Homo sapiens: one gene and its partners. The protein of the gene in region 1 interacts with the protein of each later gene in a pairwise test. Each region holds a gene or a part of one and is shown on either strand. Other genes may lie near its edges.

Region 1 (7,000 bases):
TCCTCAGAATGGAATTGGATTAGTGACAGACTTGAGCAGCCGGTTCAGTCGAGAGAGAACTTAATTCCTCCTGTGTTATTCACACGGCTGATTCTAATCAGATGTGAAGAGACAGCTGGAGGAGAGCAGCGGGTCAGCCCATGCCTGGTGCGGAGGCTTCATGTTCTTGTAGGCATCTTCAGGGAACTGGCAGGAGCGCTTTGGGTTGGAGACTCTGAGCAGGGCCCTTGGGTTTATAGCCTGCCCAAGGAACTGGGCCTGGCTGCGGGACTCCCATGGTTGGACCTTGTCTAGATTCAGTGAAAGTTTTGAAGGACAGTGCATGACAGACGTCACTGGTCAGGTTCACCAGAGCTTGGCTCACTTGTCTTCAGAAGGATTCAAAGGCAGTTGACCAGACTTGGCAAGTCCCAGACTGGTGCAGCCACTGTCCTCGAGACCCTGGTTGTACACCCTGAGGTGCTTCTGCTTCATTACCTGCTGAAATTTGGAGACCTCTTCTTCCTGGATAACCTTCAAGATACTCATTGTGCATGCGAGGAATTCCCCGCCCTCCTGGGGGGACTCCACTCCCCAGGCAGGCAAGGTTGGGCAAGGGGAGGGCTGTTGCTGGATTGCCAAAGGGAGCATGGACATTTTTGTTTGGAATTCAGGGTGGGAATGGGACTCACCAGAGTGGCTTCAGTGCTCAACTCACAGTGCAACATAGGACAAGGTGAAGGCCTTCTTGGGAGGCCTCTTCTGGCTCTAGCAAGCAGGTGTTGCTGGGCAGTGTAGAGGGACCCAGGCCGGTTGCTGAGCAGGAAGATGTACCTAACACTGATGGGCCTGCACACCTTAGGGTATGAGAGCATCGCAGGGGAACCAGGAAACTTGTTAGCTGGTTTTCATGTGTTTAAAAAGAAGACTCGGAGGCAGAGTTTATTTTATGAAGGGCTAGCTTTTTGCCATTTCTTCTGAGCTTTTGCCTTTTCCTTTATGAATACTTCCTGCCTATGGGTGTACTGTAAATGTAACAGCCAGTGAGCTTTCTAGAAGCAGCAGATGGTGAAAGATCCACAGGTGAGGAGCCTGCCCACTGGAGGGGCGAGACAGTGCCCAGGCAGGGCGTGCAGGTGGCAGAGCTGTTTGCATGCTCCGCGGGGTGGCTTCCCAAGCTCTCTGTAGAAAAACTGCCTGAGGGCAAATGGCTCCACTGAGCTGCTACCTGCAGGAAAGAAGCTCAAGGGCTCTCCTCGTCTCACTGCCTGCCTTCTTCACCTGCTGGGAGGAGGGCATTGTGGTGTCTGAGATAAAGGATACCCCCAAGGTGGAAGCAGAGCCATGGGGGTGGCCTCCAGCAGCAGGGAGGAGCATTGTGCAGTAAATTCTGACTCCGGGGCTCCTGTGGGGATTGGAACCCATAGGAATTGCACAATGAGGGTAAAGGATGGGGCGGCAGCAGCCAGGTCTGTCTAAGGGGCGAGCAGCAGTGGCCGAAGGCTCCCAGGGCCCTCGGGCAGCAGCCCTTGCTGACCAGTGCAGCCAGGTCGTGGCTGCCTCCAGCTGGTGGGTCTGCCTTCCCCTCTGACCGCCTCAGTGCCTTCTGGAGGACTGTGGCTCTCTCTCCTGCCCAGTGGCTGTGGTGCCTTCCTACTTCTGTGTGGGCAGACTGATTTCCCTCTCTACCTTTACTTGTGGCTGAGGCGAAGCTCCTGCTCTTGCAAGATAAGAGGTGGGGCTGAGGCGCTGCAGTGCAGCTCAGGTGGGGCTCAGGAAGCACCCCACCCACCCCAGAGCACTCTGCATCCTAATAAGCACATGCTCGAGTCACTGGAATCTGGTGCTGCTGGCAGTGCCAGAACCCTCCCCTAGCACCTCGAGGGGACAGCCAGCATGCTCCTCGGGTGGAGGATCCAGGAATTCTTGGAGCCAACATTGCACAAATGGGCAGGAGCCTCTCAAGGCCCCCACAGCCTGGGCTCCCTGCCTGGGGAAGTGGCCAGGCTTCATAGGGGCATCACTTGGCCCGCCTGGTAGGCATGGAGGCCAGTGCCATACGTGACCTTGTTGTTGCCTGCACCCCTTCCTAACGAGCACCCTGCTCCCCACTGGAAGGAGAGGGGCCAGGGCTCCTCCCTCCCCAGGGAGGGGAGAAACGTGATGTTGCTATTAGCAATAACAGCTGCCGAGTTCCCACCATGCGCCAGGTGCAGTGTTGAGTGCATCACACGCGGTTCCCAATTCCTCTGCCTGTCACCCCACGAGGAAGGGGCTGCCATCACGCCCGCTTCACAGTGAGGAACTGAGGCTAGAGGGGAGCAAGTGACCTGCCCAGGGCCACACAGCTGGTCAGTGGCCCAGCTGGGCCTTGCACCAGGCAGCTGACTGTGCCTGTATCTGACTCAAAGTGGCTGTTCTTTTCAGAAACCTGAGCGGAGATACTGGGCTCACATGCTTTCATTTAAACCCTCTCTCATTTTTGCCCCAGTAGTTATCTGGCAGCTAAATCTCTTCCTCCTTTCTTCCCCAGTGACCATTCTGGTTCCCATCATCACAGGGCACATAACTCCTGGCCCTTCTCCTCTGATTACATTTAGGGAGAAGCCCATCCTGATGCAGCTCCCTTCTAGAGGGAGTTCCATTTAGGCAAAAAAGCGCTCTCCATTCCCATCAGAACCGGGCTTTCCAAAGGGCTCTGAAATTGGTTCCACTGAAGAAGGCAGCTGAGCTGCCTCCCCACATTCCGCTTGTTAGTCGGGAACTTCAAGGCCAAAAGATTTGGCAGGATTTAAAGAGTTGCTCTCAAGCTGTCTCATTCTGAGCACACTAATGCTGTCTGTCTTCTGATGGTGAAGTGGTGGGTTTGGAGTCTCCCTCCCCTGCCCTTTATGGAGCCGCCGATAGTACCGAGGACTCTTCACATGCAGACTCGAGGGGTCCAGAGAATGGGCCAGACCATCTTGCCTGCCCCATGGCAACCTCCAGAGGAAAGAGGCTCAGAGAGGTCAGGGGTGTCTGCAGTGAGCTGCTGATGGCAGAGAGTGAGCTCTCGGACCTTCTCAGCCGGGTGTGGAGCTCTTGCCTCTCCCGCGAACCTCAGTTTAGTTATCTTCATAGCCCACGTCCTGGTCGCTTAACAAACATTGAGCTCCTGATCGGCACATAACACTAAGCCAGATATTTGGGGGATATGAAGATGAATGGTACAGACTCCCTCCCCTCCACCCCCGCACTCCTGTGGGAAGTCCCGGAGCTGGAAATGGAACACAGTCACACCCAAGGCATTGATTTCAGGAGTCAGCAGAGAGCAGGGAGTAGGGAGAGTGCTGGCTCCAGATGCTTCTATCCAGGGAGATGCTGGGAAGTGGCCCAGAGTCAAGGGCTTAGGAGGTTGCAAACCTCACTATGCCAAGAGCTCGGTCCCTGATCCACCCCATCCCCTTCCACATCTCCCTGACTGTCCTTCTTTACATTTGCTGGGCAGAGTGCCACCTGTGTGCACCAGCCCTCCCTGCCTGCACAAGCCACACTGAGAAAGCCGTTGCCTCCAGCTCATGGAGAGAAACACCTTCTCAGCTGCCACGTCATGAGCAAGTTTGCTTCGGGACCACCTGGGAAACCAGGAGTAGAAGGGGTAAACTCTTCCTCATCTGCCACAGGCCTGCCTTGCCTCAGGCCACGTCACCTTACCCCAGCCATGTTGCCAGGGCATGAGGACTAAGATGCTTGCCCTGCCAAGCCCGGAGGGGATGAGCAGCCTCAGCTGGTGCCGCCACAGACAGCACACCACAGAGGTGGCTCAGGGACCTTGGTAGATGGGAATGTGAGAATCTATTAAAATAGGCAGGGATCTCCGGTCCTCTGTCAAGAGGCAATGCTGACGGCTTTTTCCTGCTGGCGTGCCTCTGCCCACCAGCCTTCCCCTTGCACATCCTCATTTGTCACCTCCTAATTTGAATTATTGGGCAAATCTGGCCGCTTATTTGGGACTGACAGCCAACTTCTTGAGCATCTATTTGAACAGCCTTCCCTTTCGCTCCCAGCCACCTTTGAGGTGAGTCCAAGTGGCAGGACAGGACCCTGTGTGACAGAGCGGAGGTCTTGTGCCCTCTCAGCTTCTTCTCTGCTTTCTTACAGCTCACCTTGCAGAGCGCCAAGTCCCGAGTGGCCTTCTTTGAAGAGCTCTAGCAGGTGACCCAGCCACCCCAGGACCTGCCACTTCTCCTGCTACCGGGACCGCGGGATGGACCAGATATCAAGAGAGCCATCCATAGGGAGCTGGCTGGGGGTTTCCGTGGGAGCTCCAGAACTTTCCCCAGCTGAGTGAAGAGCCCAGCCCCTCTTATGTGCAATTGCCTTGAACTACGACCCTGTAGAGATTTCTCTCATGGCGTTCTAGTTCTCTGACCTGAGTCTTTGTTTTAAGAAGTATTTGTCTTCCTTTGTCTAATGTGGGATTCCTGACTCCCTTCGTCCAAGGCACCGGTGTGTGTGTGTCTTGCACTCCAGAGCTGACCTCCACCGCCCAGCCTGGGAAGTCATTGTAGGGAGTGAGACACTGAAGCCCTGAGAAGCCAGTGCCATCATCCCCACCCCGCCCAGGGTTCCGGAACATTCATTCCCCCACCGGTGAGGACCTGGCATGCAGCGAAGCAGCCCAGCCCGGCGGATCCCAGGCCAGCACGCCTGCCGGCTTCTCATCGTCAGGGAGCCCGCCCAGAGCTCGTGACGAGCAAGTGCTGGGTCCCCGCCAGGCACCCCGAGGCGGCGCTCTGGCTGGCAGCTGGTGGGGAATAGGCAGGGCAGCTGTGGCTGGGGAGAGACTTTAGGCAGAAGCTGTGATGCAGGCTGACTGCCAGCCGAGGGGCTGGGTAGTGCCGTGCGGGAGCTGATGGTACAGGGCACTCGCTGTCCCCCTCCGGCCACCCTAGACCAGGGTCCGAGAGGCAGGCAGGAGCCACTCATGTCTTCCCCATTGCCCGACGCCCATAGACGCTCCTTCCTGTGTGGGGCTGGGGTACTCCCTGGTCGTACTGCAGTCAGCACCCGTAACCCGGCTATGACCAGGGATCTGTAAGCCCTGTGGCTCCACAGGTGCTGCTTCTCACTGGCCCAGACTCTGAGCTCCACCGGCCCAGTCTGCACGGCCCATCTGCTTCACCTTCCCTCCCAGCCACGTGCCAGTGGCCACAGCCCACTTCCCAACCCACTGTTGTACCCAGGCCTCACTTTGCTGTTGCCCTTGTCCCTCTTCGGGCCCTGAATTTTCTGTTCCCTGGGGGCCAGCCAGGGCCCTTTGTGCCCCTCCCAGCACAGGCCTGATGCAGGTGTCCACTCACAGGTGGCGCTCACCTAGGCTGTCACAGGACCCACCTCCATGCCAGGCAACAGAGGGCCACAGAACCACCCCCACGGCTCACTCCTTGGTCTGGGGCCACCTTCTTGCCCTTTCTTTTTTTTTTTTTTTTTTTTTTTCCGAGATGGAGTCTCTCTCTGTCACCCAGGTGGGAGTGTGGTGGCACAATCTCGGCTCACTGCAACCTCCACCTCCTGAGTTCAAGCAATTCTCCTGCCTCAGCCTCCCAAGTAGCTGGGACTACAGGCATGCACCACCACACTTGGCCAATGTTCTGTATTTTTAATAGGGACGGGGTTTTGCCATGTTAGCTAGGCTGGTCTCAAACTCACACCTGGGATTACAGGCATGAGCCACTGCACCCAGCCCCTTCTTGCCCTTTCTTTTCTCCATGGCTGATGCTGCTGTGGCCAGCCAGGGCCCTTGAGATCCTTCCAGTTTGGCTGTTATGCAAAGCAGGTGATTTGTCTTAATCAGATAAAAGATAGAGGCTATGGGGGCCTCAAGATTTTTGGAGAGCAGAGGTGGTCTCTGGCAATTCCATCTGGTTTTGAGAAACTTAGCAGCTCACAGAGCACAGAGATCCTGCCTTCTTCCTACTATCAGGCTGACCTAATGGGGTTGGGCTGCTCGGCAACTGCTTGGGTCACCTTGCCCCAAGGAAACCAGCCCTGGGTGCCACCCAGCCACTTAGGGTCTACAGGGTGGGACTCCAGACCTAGAGCGTAAGTATGGATGTTGTGGCCCTGTGTCTTCCTAGTGTGACCCAGCCAGGAGCGGAAGCTTCAGGCGTTTGTAAAGTGAGGTCTGGCTCTGCCTCCTCCGTTTTTTTTTTTTTTCTGTTTCTGTTTCTGTTTTTTTTTTGAGATGGAGTCTCGCTCTGTCGCCCAGGCTGGAGTGCAGTGTCACGATCTCAGCTCACTGCAACCTCCGCCTCCCAGGTACAAGAGATTCTCCTGCCTCAGCCTCCCGAGTAGCTGGGACTACAGGCGTGTGCCACCATGCCTGGCTAATTTTTGTATTTTTAGTAGAGATGGGGTTTCGCCATGTTAGCCAGACTGGTCTCGAACTCCTGACCTCAGGTGATCCTCCCACCCCGGCTTCCCAAAGTTCTGGGATTATAGGCGTGAGCCACCATGCCCGGTCTCTTCTCAGTCTTGAAGCCCATCCCTGGATTTCCACCAGGAGTTACTTTCCTCCTGACCTGTAAATTTGTTCTTTAACAATGGCTGCAGGTGGGAGCATATGGTGGTTTATAAAAACGCTGTCGGGCTTTGTTTCCTTCTTTAGCTGCCGTGTCTACTTCTGAAGTCTGGGAAGTGCCAAGCCACGCGGCCTCAAGGGAGCTGGCTGGTGTTTGAGCTGTGGCAGAAGCACCTGGGGCTCCAGGGAGCAGGCTGGGAACTGCAGGACCTTGCTCAGCCAGGAGCACTTCCCCCTCCTTGAGGCAGGAATACTGAGGTGCCTCCCCACAGATGGAGAAGGTGGAGAGGAGGATGGGCCTCAGGAGCATCTCAAGCCCCAGTAGCAGGAGAAAGAAAGAAAGAGATGCCTGGTTTTCACAGACTGGTTCCTGTGGCTGGGATGACTGCATCCTTTTTTTTTTTTTTTTGAGACGGAGTTTTTGCCTTTGTCGCCCAGGCTGGAGTGCAATGGCGTGAT
Region 2 (7,833 bases), on another chromosome or scaffold:
TGCATTTGGCCAACTCTCCTGTTGCGATTTAAAAAATACCTGATTCTAGCAGTAATAATCCTCATACCCTAAGTCCTTCATCATGGCTGGTGGATGAGTCAGCTTCATATTATGTTTTAGAATGCTTTACATAAATTAGTTACCAATATAATTCTTTAATAAATTATAAATATATCTGTATACTATAACGGGTAAGTCAGAGATTAAAATTTTATGAATTTGGATTTCAATCCTTTTCCAAAAAAATGACAATTCAGAAATCAGGTAAGTTTCATGGATATATTTTAGGTATTTTTATAGTAAACATTTCATAAAAGTCATTTTGGTAGCTGTGCCCATGAACATGTATGTGAGTAATATTCTGAAAAGTAGACCCAGTAAACGTCAGAGGAACGACAAAATCATCGAGAAAAAGACAAACACATACAGCCATTACTGTGTAATTACTGTGTAATTTTAGCCAGCTCTTTGAATAAAGTCACTAGGTTACTAGTTTAGATTAATAATAAATTACTGGCATAATGAAAATTTACCACCTTTCTTTTCAGTTATTTTTTTCAGGAGTGAGAGTATTCATTTAAAGATAACACAAAAGCTGTGGAAGCTGTCTGCCATCTGCCTAAATCGACTAAGAACAATATTTACTTAAATAAAGGACTGGATCCTCTATAATAATTCAATAGTCTTATTACTATCTCATCTCAGAGTCATATAAGTAATACAATTTATTGGATGATGAGAGTAATTCCTACATCTGTAATCTGTTTCAGGCTTAATAGTTACTGTGGATCACTAAGTTGCTTAAAGCTATTTGTGAACCATTAAGAAATATTTTCAAAACATGTTGTTGGTCTTTGCCAGAAATGTGTACAGGAAATTGTTCTTTGCAATCATCATGGGATTTCAAGCACCTTTTTTCATCAGAAATTATTTATAAAACTGTATTTTCTATCTTTTCTCTGTTTGTTTATGTTTCAGCATTTTAGGGTTTGATGGTATTTTAAGTAAGCAGAGATGTTCTCGTTTCCTTAGCTTCTTCCTATTTAGACCTATGTTACAATTAAGACCACATTTAAAAAGAGACAGTCTTCTGTGGGTCAATAAATTCTGAATGATTATATTTGCTCTTGACCTCAAGAAGGTGTTCTGGCTGAGCACCAAGAGTGACACTGAAACCCAAGTGTCAAGTATGTTGGGGCCCGTAATTGGACCTTCTTCTTTTGGGGAAGACTTCCAAGAAACTGGACCCATTCTGGGTTAGAACAGACTAACTATTAAGCATCTTTGATCTGGAAAATGCTGTGAGCCAACCCTACTTAGTGTATCTTGAGGTCATCAGCAAAGTAGGGGCACAGTAAGACTGGATTTTAGAATGGTGGTTCCCACCACAAGAGCACATCAAAGTCACCGTTAAGCTTGCTAAACATAGAGCATCCTGAACAATGGATCAGAATTTCTAGAAGAGCAGCCAGGGCACCTCTATTTCTAATACATTTCCTAGGTAATTTTGATTCATACTAAAGTTCAATATATTCCCATTCTAGGGAATAAATTATGGGTCCTCAAAAATGTCTCCTCTCTGTTTGTGATGTAGACAAAAATCCGTGATTGGCAAACATTTGTATGTCCCTGCCTTTGGGAGCCCAGATGTGGAACAATGAGACAGTGTGCTTTTTGTTTGTTTCCCCATAAACAATTTTCTCTGGAAGAAAATTATAATACATTTCACCCTTGATTTTTCTTTAATAAATAAAAATTACTGAAAATCTAGATACCAAATCTGCAAGAGGCTCTATTTGTAACTGCACGAGTACTAGTTTTTGAAATTCATAAGTAATATTCAGTTATAGGTGGGGGAGGATAGGAGGGAGGAAAAATAGAAAACATAGTGACTAGGAATGGCATGTAAGTCACAAATGTATCACCAAAGCTTTCTCTGGAGATTAATCAACATTTTGTTATAGTTCATATGTCTCAGGTTTCTATAAAATAAAGCGAAATTAATCAAATACAAAGGTTTGGGGGACCTTTTCAATTTGTATTTACTTTGCTTTACAGTTGCTAATGAAGGCATCTGATTTGCAGTAACTACAAAGATTTTCAGTCATTGATTCTAGCAAGGGCTGCTTACGGAACAGTTATTCCCTATACATAATTTCCTATAATTATTCCCTATAAAGTAGAATTTCTGTTCAAAGCATCTGGGCACTTCTTTCTCTATGATAACATCCTTACCAATGTATATTCAAGGTCTGATGCTACTAAATTAAAAACTTAAATGAATAGAAGTTTCCATTTAGTTTCCCATTATACCTTGGTTATCTGTAAAAGAAAACTAGAAAATATTTGAATTCATTCATTCAATTAGCAGTAGTCTCTGTTGCTGAACAAAATCTATGGTACCAATTGTAAATATATAAAAATATTACTACAGATACTCTATTGTTACAATATGTTCTATTTCTACCTACACCAATATAGTATTCTTTTAAGATTTTTATAGAACAAAAATCAAGAACAAAATAAGGAACCCACAGAACTGGAAGGCTGAAAGGAATTTAAGCCCCGTGGGTTAAAAGCAATGTACTGGTTACTTAGATATTTTTTTCTATGTTACATAATTTTGGTTAAAAATATAGAGCAAATCTTAGCTAAAGAAAGCAAACTAGCCATTTCTGTTCTTATTAATAAGTGCACAATTAACCACTAGAAATGCCATCAATGCTAGATGTGATCAACTCATCTCCTAGAAATATGTTCTTACCTCTTTATGCTCCGTAGAACTTTCTGCGGCAATCATTCTAGATGTGCCCTGTACAAAATGTGCCATGGAAGCTGTTTTTCCTGGAGTCTTGGAAAGCAGAAAGAAAAACAGGGGAAAAGTCTCTTAAGGTATATTTTAGGGTGAGAGCAAGTATACAAAATTTAAAAAACACACATCACCGTTAACTCATAATAGAAAATAACAGCAATAGGTTTTCATTAAAAATGAACAGAAGTGACTGTGGATAGGAATTACACAGAATAAAGTTATAAGCACTGCAACTGGGATTTTAACTTTTCTTCTCTTCCAAATAGGGATTTCCCAGGATGTCTCAAATAGGCAGGCCGTGACTAAGACCTGGGGCAGATTAGCCTTGCTATAGTATGTAAATCGTCATTCTTCCTTTACTGGCAGTTTCTCCCACTGGAGGAGGAAGTTCTCCACCACAGAAAGCCTGGGCAATCCAAGTGTTTCCTCAGTAGCCTAACTGTTATAAATTCATTGTATTTCCCAGAGCAATTAGGTAACTGTTGACTTTTTGACAGCTCGGTTTCCCTAAAGGCGAGATTTTCTGGCAATACCTTCTAAATGTGAGTGTAGCTTGGTAGAACTTAATGAGTCATACATAATTCATAATACATAATAATATAAGTGCCACTAATTCTTATAGAAATAAAAGGGAAAATAATTCATTGTAAAGAAAATGGGCATTGTTTGCAAATCTAATCTTCTATATTGGCAGAAAGGTTAAACTTGTCTCAAGTTTAAGTCTGTCTTTTCTATAAATCAAGTCCAGATTGTCTCCATGACTCATTTGAAGTGAAATCTTCTCATGGAGAATCATTTTCACTTTAATTATTTGACTGTTATCATTTTAGGAGCCTTGAGGTAATGGAGCACTACTGGGTAGTACAGATAAAAGCGTGGAAATGGCAGATACTTGGAGCTGCATAAGTGAACTGCGATGGAACAGAAGACCTCATTTTGGACTTGGAACAAAAGGAAAGAGGCAAGGAATACAAAAAAGGAAAGAATGTGTAACTAAAAAGAGAAAAGAATTTATGGTCAATCATTTAACTTCATTAACCTGCCTACGAGATATTCACATATATATAGGATAAAGCCTAAAACTCCTAAAATTCAAAAGAGAGTGATTGAGTGTCCCACATTTGGCCCTCCCATTTCTCCTGAATATCTCCCCCTACTCTCCAACTCTCCCCTGTGCTCCAACCATCCTGACTGACCTCCCTTTCCTGAAATGAGTGAGATGGTTCTACGCCCCTGAGCTCTGTGCATGCTGTTCTTGCCACCTCAGATGTCTCCTCTCTGGGCCCTCCATCCAACCTTATGACGGGGAAAACCTAAGTCAATGCCTCTCTTTCCTTCTGATCTTCTCTTGACTTCCTCTAATCAGCTAAGGAGAGCACTTCATCATGCATTACGATTACATATTTCCATGTTCTTGTGTTAATCTCTGTGTCCACGCACCCAGGCACTGAGCTGTCTGGCACACAGCAGGCATTCAACACATTTTGCTACATGAATAAATGAATGAATATCTATATAATGATTTACAAAATCGATGAACTTTTTGCTAGTTTGTGTGTGTGTGTGTGTGTGTGTGTGTGTGTGTTTACTTTCTTCTGGTTTCTTGTTATGTTTGGGTCTACGCTTGAGTGAAAGGGAGTGACGCTGCTTTAAGGCAAAATCCAAAAATACAGGTAGGAATCAAATTGTTCATTCAGGGTTCTGAAAGTAAAAAGTTATAACTCACATAAGATCTGACTTTAGGGTACAGAAGCAGCGATTTCCTGAACTGACACTTTATCAACACTAAAATCTGCTCATCAGAAAAGAAAAAGAAAACTCTATTGTAAGAATATTTTTCTTCTGAAACATACCATGCACATACACACTCCATAGTTTTATATAGTGTAAGGTTCTCTTCAGCTTTAACTTTGTATTTGTATAGGGATGTGGTAACATTGACCTAGAAAAGTGGGTGGGAAGAACATTTTCTTGCCAGGAAATACCATCCTTGGCATTGTGCCTCTTGAGTCTCCCCTGTAAAATATCCTGATGCACATACATTGTTAGGTGTGATGGCTTCTATTAAATGGAAATTCTATACCTTTGCTTCTTTCTTTACAATTCCTTTGCCTCTTCTGTTATGCAGATAAACAACAAACAGATTTTCTATTAGCTCAAGAGAGCCATATGGTTATTTATGAATAAGTAATAACTCTTCTGAAGAGCCACAAGTTTGGTTTCAGAAAAATGAGACTTTCAATATGCCATCCCTAAGAATTAATTGGGTCTTTTCTGTTACATATGCTCTGTTCACTTCACCTCCATCCCTCTCACATTGTGCCACATATTTTAAGAGTCTGGCTTTTAGTCAAGCTTTGTTTCATGAGAAGTATCACTAGCTGAAATCACTTTCAGAGAAACAGAGGTGTCATTCCATGTTTCCAAGGCTGTTGTGAAGAGTCTTCATTTCTGAAGTCACTAAAATATTATACAGAGGAAAGAAAATTAAAATTAACAAAGGGAAATGTGGTAAAGGAACAAGGACTACCAGTCACTGGTCTATAACCATCATTCTGGTGGACAATAATTATCTTAAAATTAGTCCAAGAGGAGAGTACTATATTTCTATAAGTTATTGGAGGCATTCTTTGGCAGGTAAAAGAAACATGCCTTTTTCCTTTTTATGCTTTTACAATGGGAGCTGAAAAACCTTCTTTGTTTCCTGAATCTATTTGCATGAATTTTTAAGTGTATGTGCTATGTAGGTAGGAAAGAGAGGATTAGTAATGACTAAAAGATCTAGCTCTAGAATTAGATTATCTGGACTCACAGCTTGGCTCTGCCACTCACTGCTTGTGCCTTTGGTCATCTAAGATGCTTAAGGTCTCTAAGGCTCAATTTCCATTTTATACAATGGGATAGTAATAGTATCCTTCTCCTAGGGTTGCTATCTGAGCTTATATAGTAATAACAATTTGGTTTTAAAGATAGGACCATCAATCAAATTATTTATGAAACAAATAACATGACAAAAGGAAAGGGAAATCCACAATTTATGCATCACTCACCCTGTACTTGACATTGTGTGGGTTCCAAAGGAAAACAAAAGCAAAAATTCCCTGCTTATGATGAAATGTACACACACATACATATGTGTGTGTGGCTGTGTGTATGTCAATATATATATATTTGAAAAACTAAACAGTAAATGAAGACCAGGAAATGAATGATAGAGACAATAAAGCCTGTAAGAATTCAGAGGAGAGAGTGCTCATTATCACCTTTAATAGCTATGGAAAGAGTCAGAGTTTCTGCTGGGCCTTGAAGGGTAGATAGGATTTTGACAGAGAGTGAAAGCTGAGCTATAAATGCTGCAAAGGGAGCACAGTAAGAAACAGAACACAACTGGGCAAGCCTAGTTATGAAGGATTCTGACAAATCCAGTTTACCTAGAGTAGGGTCCGTGTGGTATTTTCAAAGTTTATTTGGATGAAATCATAAAAGATTTTAATTTCAGATTAAGAAATGTTGACCTTATAGGCCATATGGAGTTACTAAAGACCTTTGGGCAAAGGAATTACATGATCAAAGTGGTTTTTTAATTGGTTTTAGTTCATCATGTATTAAATGGGAGAGATTGGAAACTGCAATGCAGTTAATATACATTAGCAAAAGTAATATTCAAAATATTTATTTTAACAGCTTGTGACAATCAGAATATTTAGCACTCAGTTCACCAGGGGCACTAGGAATGGACCATATCCCTGGACTCGAGACTCCTGTATTAATTGCTTAATTGTCATCTCTGCTTGTATGCATAATAGTTACCTCCTTCTTCACCTGACCTGTTTGATCAGGATAGCTTAGTTTATGATTTTCCCTGCAAAACTTGCCTTCCCTGTTACAATTAATAACACCTTTTATTCTCCAGATCAAAAATCTTGGAGTCATCCTTGACTCTTCTTTCTCTTACATCCTGCATCCAATCTATCTGAACATTTTGTAGGCTTTTTGAAAATATATCCAGACAGGGGAGGAGCACATTGCCACAAAAGCCTAGAGACTTCTCAGTTTAATAAGCAAGTGGCAAGGTGAAATAAACTTACCATTTTTTCTTTCTTTTTTCTTTTTTTTTGAGACAGAGTCTCGCTCTGTCACCCAGGCTGGAGTGCAGTGGCACAATCTCGCCTCACTGCAACCTCCGCCTCGTGGGTTCAAGCAATTCTCCTGCCTCAGCCTCCCAAGTAGCAGGGATTACAGGCATGCACCACCATGCCTGGCTAATTTTTTTTGTAGAGACAGGGTTTCACCATATTGGCCAGGCTGTTCTCGAACTTCTGACCTTGTGATCCACCCGCCTCGGCCTCCCAAAGTGCTGGGATTACAGGCATAAGCCAACATGCCCAGCCTTTTTCTTTTTTCTTTTCTTTGCTTTTTTTTTTTTTTTAAGAGACAGAGTTATGTTCTGTAGTACAGGCTGGAGTGCAGTGGTACAATCATAGCTCATTGTAACCTCCAACTCCTGGGGTCAAGCAATCCAGCTGCCTCAGCCTCTTGAGTAGCTACAGGTGTGTACAACCACATCTGGCTATTTTTATCTTTTAAATTTTTGTAGAGATGTGGTCTCACTATATTGCCCACACTGGTCTTGAACTCGTGGCTTTGAATGATCCTCCCACCACAGCTTCTCAAAAAAAATGCCTTTTAATAACTTTTTCAAAATGAGGACTTTAATATTTGCTTCCTGATTTTATTCATAGGAACATTTTTAAGAGCGTGTCCAGCAGTGACTGATCTCTGACTGTGTGTCAAACCTAGTTCCACCACTTGCTAGTTATGTGACCTTGGGCAAGATGATTGGCATTTTTGCATGACACCAACTCACCATCATCTCTTAGCTGGATTACTGCAATAACCTAAGGGTTTTCCTGCTTCTATTTTTGCTTCCACTCCCCCCTCCCCATTATTAACACAGTGGCCACTGTGAGACTTTTAAAATGTCATTTCATGTCATTCCACTGCTCAGAACCTTTCAGTGG
Region 3 (2,887 bases), on another chromosome or scaffold:
TTCAATTACCTCCACCTGGTCTCTCCTTTGACACGTGTGGATTATGGAGATTATAGGGATTACAATTCAAGATGAGATTTTGGGTGGGAACACAGCCAAACCATATCAAAGCAGATTATATGAAGAAAAAAAAAAATCCCCTTTTACCTACTTTTTAGTTTATTATATATTTTTGTAGAAACTTATTTTGGTAGAAAAGTTGTTTGGTGCGCATGTCATAGTTACCCGTAAAACCTCACAAATGTTTAAGAAAATAAAATTATAAGCACAGTCTGTTTAAAAGCTAAATTATTTTTTGTCAGAAAAAAAAAAATCTAAGGTATTCATTTCCTCTGTGGCCTGGGTTACAAAGAGTAAATTTATAATCGAATGGAAAAAAAAAAAGTCTCAGAGGGAAAAAAGGTAGTGAATTCTTCAAATAAATAACTGTGCTGTCTTGTGATTTCAAATACAGTGTGCTTGATTCATAATACTATTAAAATATTCATTTCATACTTACGGAATATGAAAAACAGAAAATCCAATATTTGGAAGAAGTGTTTATTCTACGAGCAGATGTCATCCGCAAAGTTTATCAATTTACAATTAGGAAGGATTATGAGCCAAAGAGAAAGTTTTACAAAATAATACAATAAGACTAGCATCCAAATCGCATAGATTTATATGAGTGTGAAAAATAGGGACTCACTTTTTCAATTATGGGAAGCGTAGTGGGGGGAGAAAAGCAATTGTGTTCTGTGATAAATGAGCCTTTCTTAGCTGAGAAATCAGTTGCTTCCCATTTTATGTACTCAATTTGTGCACTTTCTATTCTATGCTCCAAACCATTTCTTTCATCTTATGAATAGAAGAAAATTAGAATTGTACTATTGAGGACATATGAGGAATTTATTCTTGAAATAAATTAACTACAATGATGCATTGTTGCGGTACTTTGATATAAAATCAGAAAGATACTGAGCTTGGAGAAGCATAATATTGTTATCACTTACAACTAAGTTTATTTGGGGGAGGAAAATATCTTGACTGATTCACCAATGTAAATGCACTGAAGGCAGCACACACCTCTGATGCGATTTGATGTGAGTTGTCATGTTAAATCTCAGACCCGGGGTATTATTAGGGTGCATTGCTTGCATCTAACAACCCATGCTCCAAGAAACCACGGTGAGAGCCAAGAAGTGAACCATTTTTTTTATATCCTGCATTTATTTAAGCAAACCAAATGTGTAGAGATAGGAAATTAATGTGTTATAATGTTTTACAAATACAGAGAGAAAACACAGAATATTAAGACCCTGAAGAGAGTGCATTTGAGAACGCAGTTCTATCATAGGAGACCACTTGCAGGGAACACATTAAAGCCATTGCTGACACAGCCATCTGTCATTCCTGGTTTGCCGTCATTTAAGTAGTTTCAATAGATAAATCGGTGATTTGCTTTTAAACAAATATTAATGTTAATGATTAGGGTAGCCTTGAAGGGTTTGTGAGTGACTGTACTATACAATGTGATGCTAGGCTTAATGTGTCATTTCAATGCTGTTGTACATTATGCAGGGGAAATAATGTCTTATTACACATTAACTGCGACATCCACTAAAATGTGAACTAGTTTGCATAGGTTAGTCCTTTGGGCAGCACGATGTTGCTCTAGTCCACCAAGGCTTAAAGATTCACAGTGTAGAGGAAAAAAATATGAATTAAAGCATTTCTACTAAAATATATTTTAATAGCTGGTGTTAACAATTTGCATAACAAAAGCCAAATTATATTAGTAACATTGTAACATTCCGTGAAGCCCCTTCATTTGCAAAACATTCAATGTTTTCTTCAAAACTGTTACACTCTCAAAGTTAGTCTCGCAAATTAATCATCAACCACAATTCTACATATTTTGAAGCAAACAGAAGCCAAACTGTACAATGGTTCAATTTTGATCACAGGTCAAACATCAAGTTTCACACCATGCCTGTAATAGACTTGGTGCTGCTTCCTAAATGCTCAGCAATTCATTGCATGGACACTGGAGAATGGGACTGTGATGCAGTTTTCTCTTTTCCTTTAAAGTACATCATTCTTAACAGCAACTGGATTACAAAGAAGTGATACTATGCAAACTGGATACCATGTATCAAGCACAAAAAATCCTATGGCATTCCCAGGAATATACTGAAGTCATACAGACAACTGAGAAAATTTGCTCAAAGATTCTTCCAAGTTTATGGGTTCAAGTAGTCTAAGCATCACAGAATAATAACCACAGAAGCAACATACAATGCCTTGACTTTTTTGATCAACAGTTGACAGTTAGTTGCGAGGAAAGGGTCCAAAAGGCATGGAATACTTCAGAGACTTTTATTTTAGCATCCTTGTCAGTTTACATAGCTTCTTACTTAACTAAAAGCTCTCCCACCTCCATATCACCTTAACCAAAACAACCACAATCTAGCCACTTTTAGATTATCAGAAGCAAATCGCTAAGGTATAATTAATTTATGAAGTGAAGTTCATCTTGTGTAGTGAATCCAGCCTCACAATTATTCTATCTTACAATAGGCATTTTAAATCCCAAATCTAAAGTTAATGTTTATATAGCTCAACTCTATATAAATCCACAAAGAACCTTTCAGAAATAGATGGAAGAAGTCGGCATTTTCTAAAGTTCTAAATCTTTAGAGATAAAATACAATCAGCTAACACCTTTAATATCTGAGGAGCATCCCACTTCCCTACCACAAAAATATCAATCATGTGTAATAAAATATTACTATAGAATAGGCAGCAACTTGCTTGCTTGGTTTTCTTTCCAAGAGCATACTAGACAAACAAGAGTAATCAAAAAGGCACCTATATTTGTATATATCTGTATTACAGTTTTGGTATA

What was found. Proteins that work in one complex are often made in the same cells at the same time.
Region 2: the proteins of NF2 (region 1) and TNIP3 interact in binary tests that used the Homo sapiens proteins (3 or more experiments, as listed by UniProt).
Region 3: the proteins of NF2 (region 1) and NEBL interact in binary tests that used the Homo sapiens proteins (3 or more experiments, as listed by UniProt).

What each region holds. Positions count from the first base shown.
Region 1 is NC_000022.11:29,690,633-29,697,632, forward strand, and holds part of NF2 (merlin), read left to right. Parts: intron 1-4,119; coding exon 4,120-4,170; coding exon of another isoform or gene 4,171-4,177; 3' UTR 4,178-7,000. UniProt on the Homo sapiens protein: Probable regulator of the Hippo/SWH (Sav/Wts/Hpo) signaling pathway, a signaling pathway that plays a pivotal role in tumor suppression by restricting proliferation and promoting apoptosis.
Region 2 is NC_000004.12:121,161,296-121,169,128, forward strand, and holds the start of TNIP3 (TNFAIP3-interacting protein 3), read right to left. Parts: upstream 3,027-7,833; 5' UTR 2,852-3,026; coding exon of another isoform or gene 2,831-2,851; coding exon 2,765-2,830; intron 1-2,764. UniProt on the Homo sapiens protein: Binds to zinc finger protein TNFAIP3 and inhibits NF-kappa-B activation induced by tumor necrosis factor, Toll-like receptor 4 (TLR4), interleukin-1 and 12-O-tetradecanoylphorbol-13-acetate.
Region 3 is NC_000010.11:20,779,447-20,782,333, forward strand, and holds the end of NEBL (nebulette), read right to left. Parts: 3' UTR 527-2,887; downstream 1-526. UniProt on the Homo sapiens protein: Binds to actin and plays an important role in the assembly of the Z-disk. May functionally link sarcomeric actin to the desmin intermediate filaments in the heart muscle sarcomeres.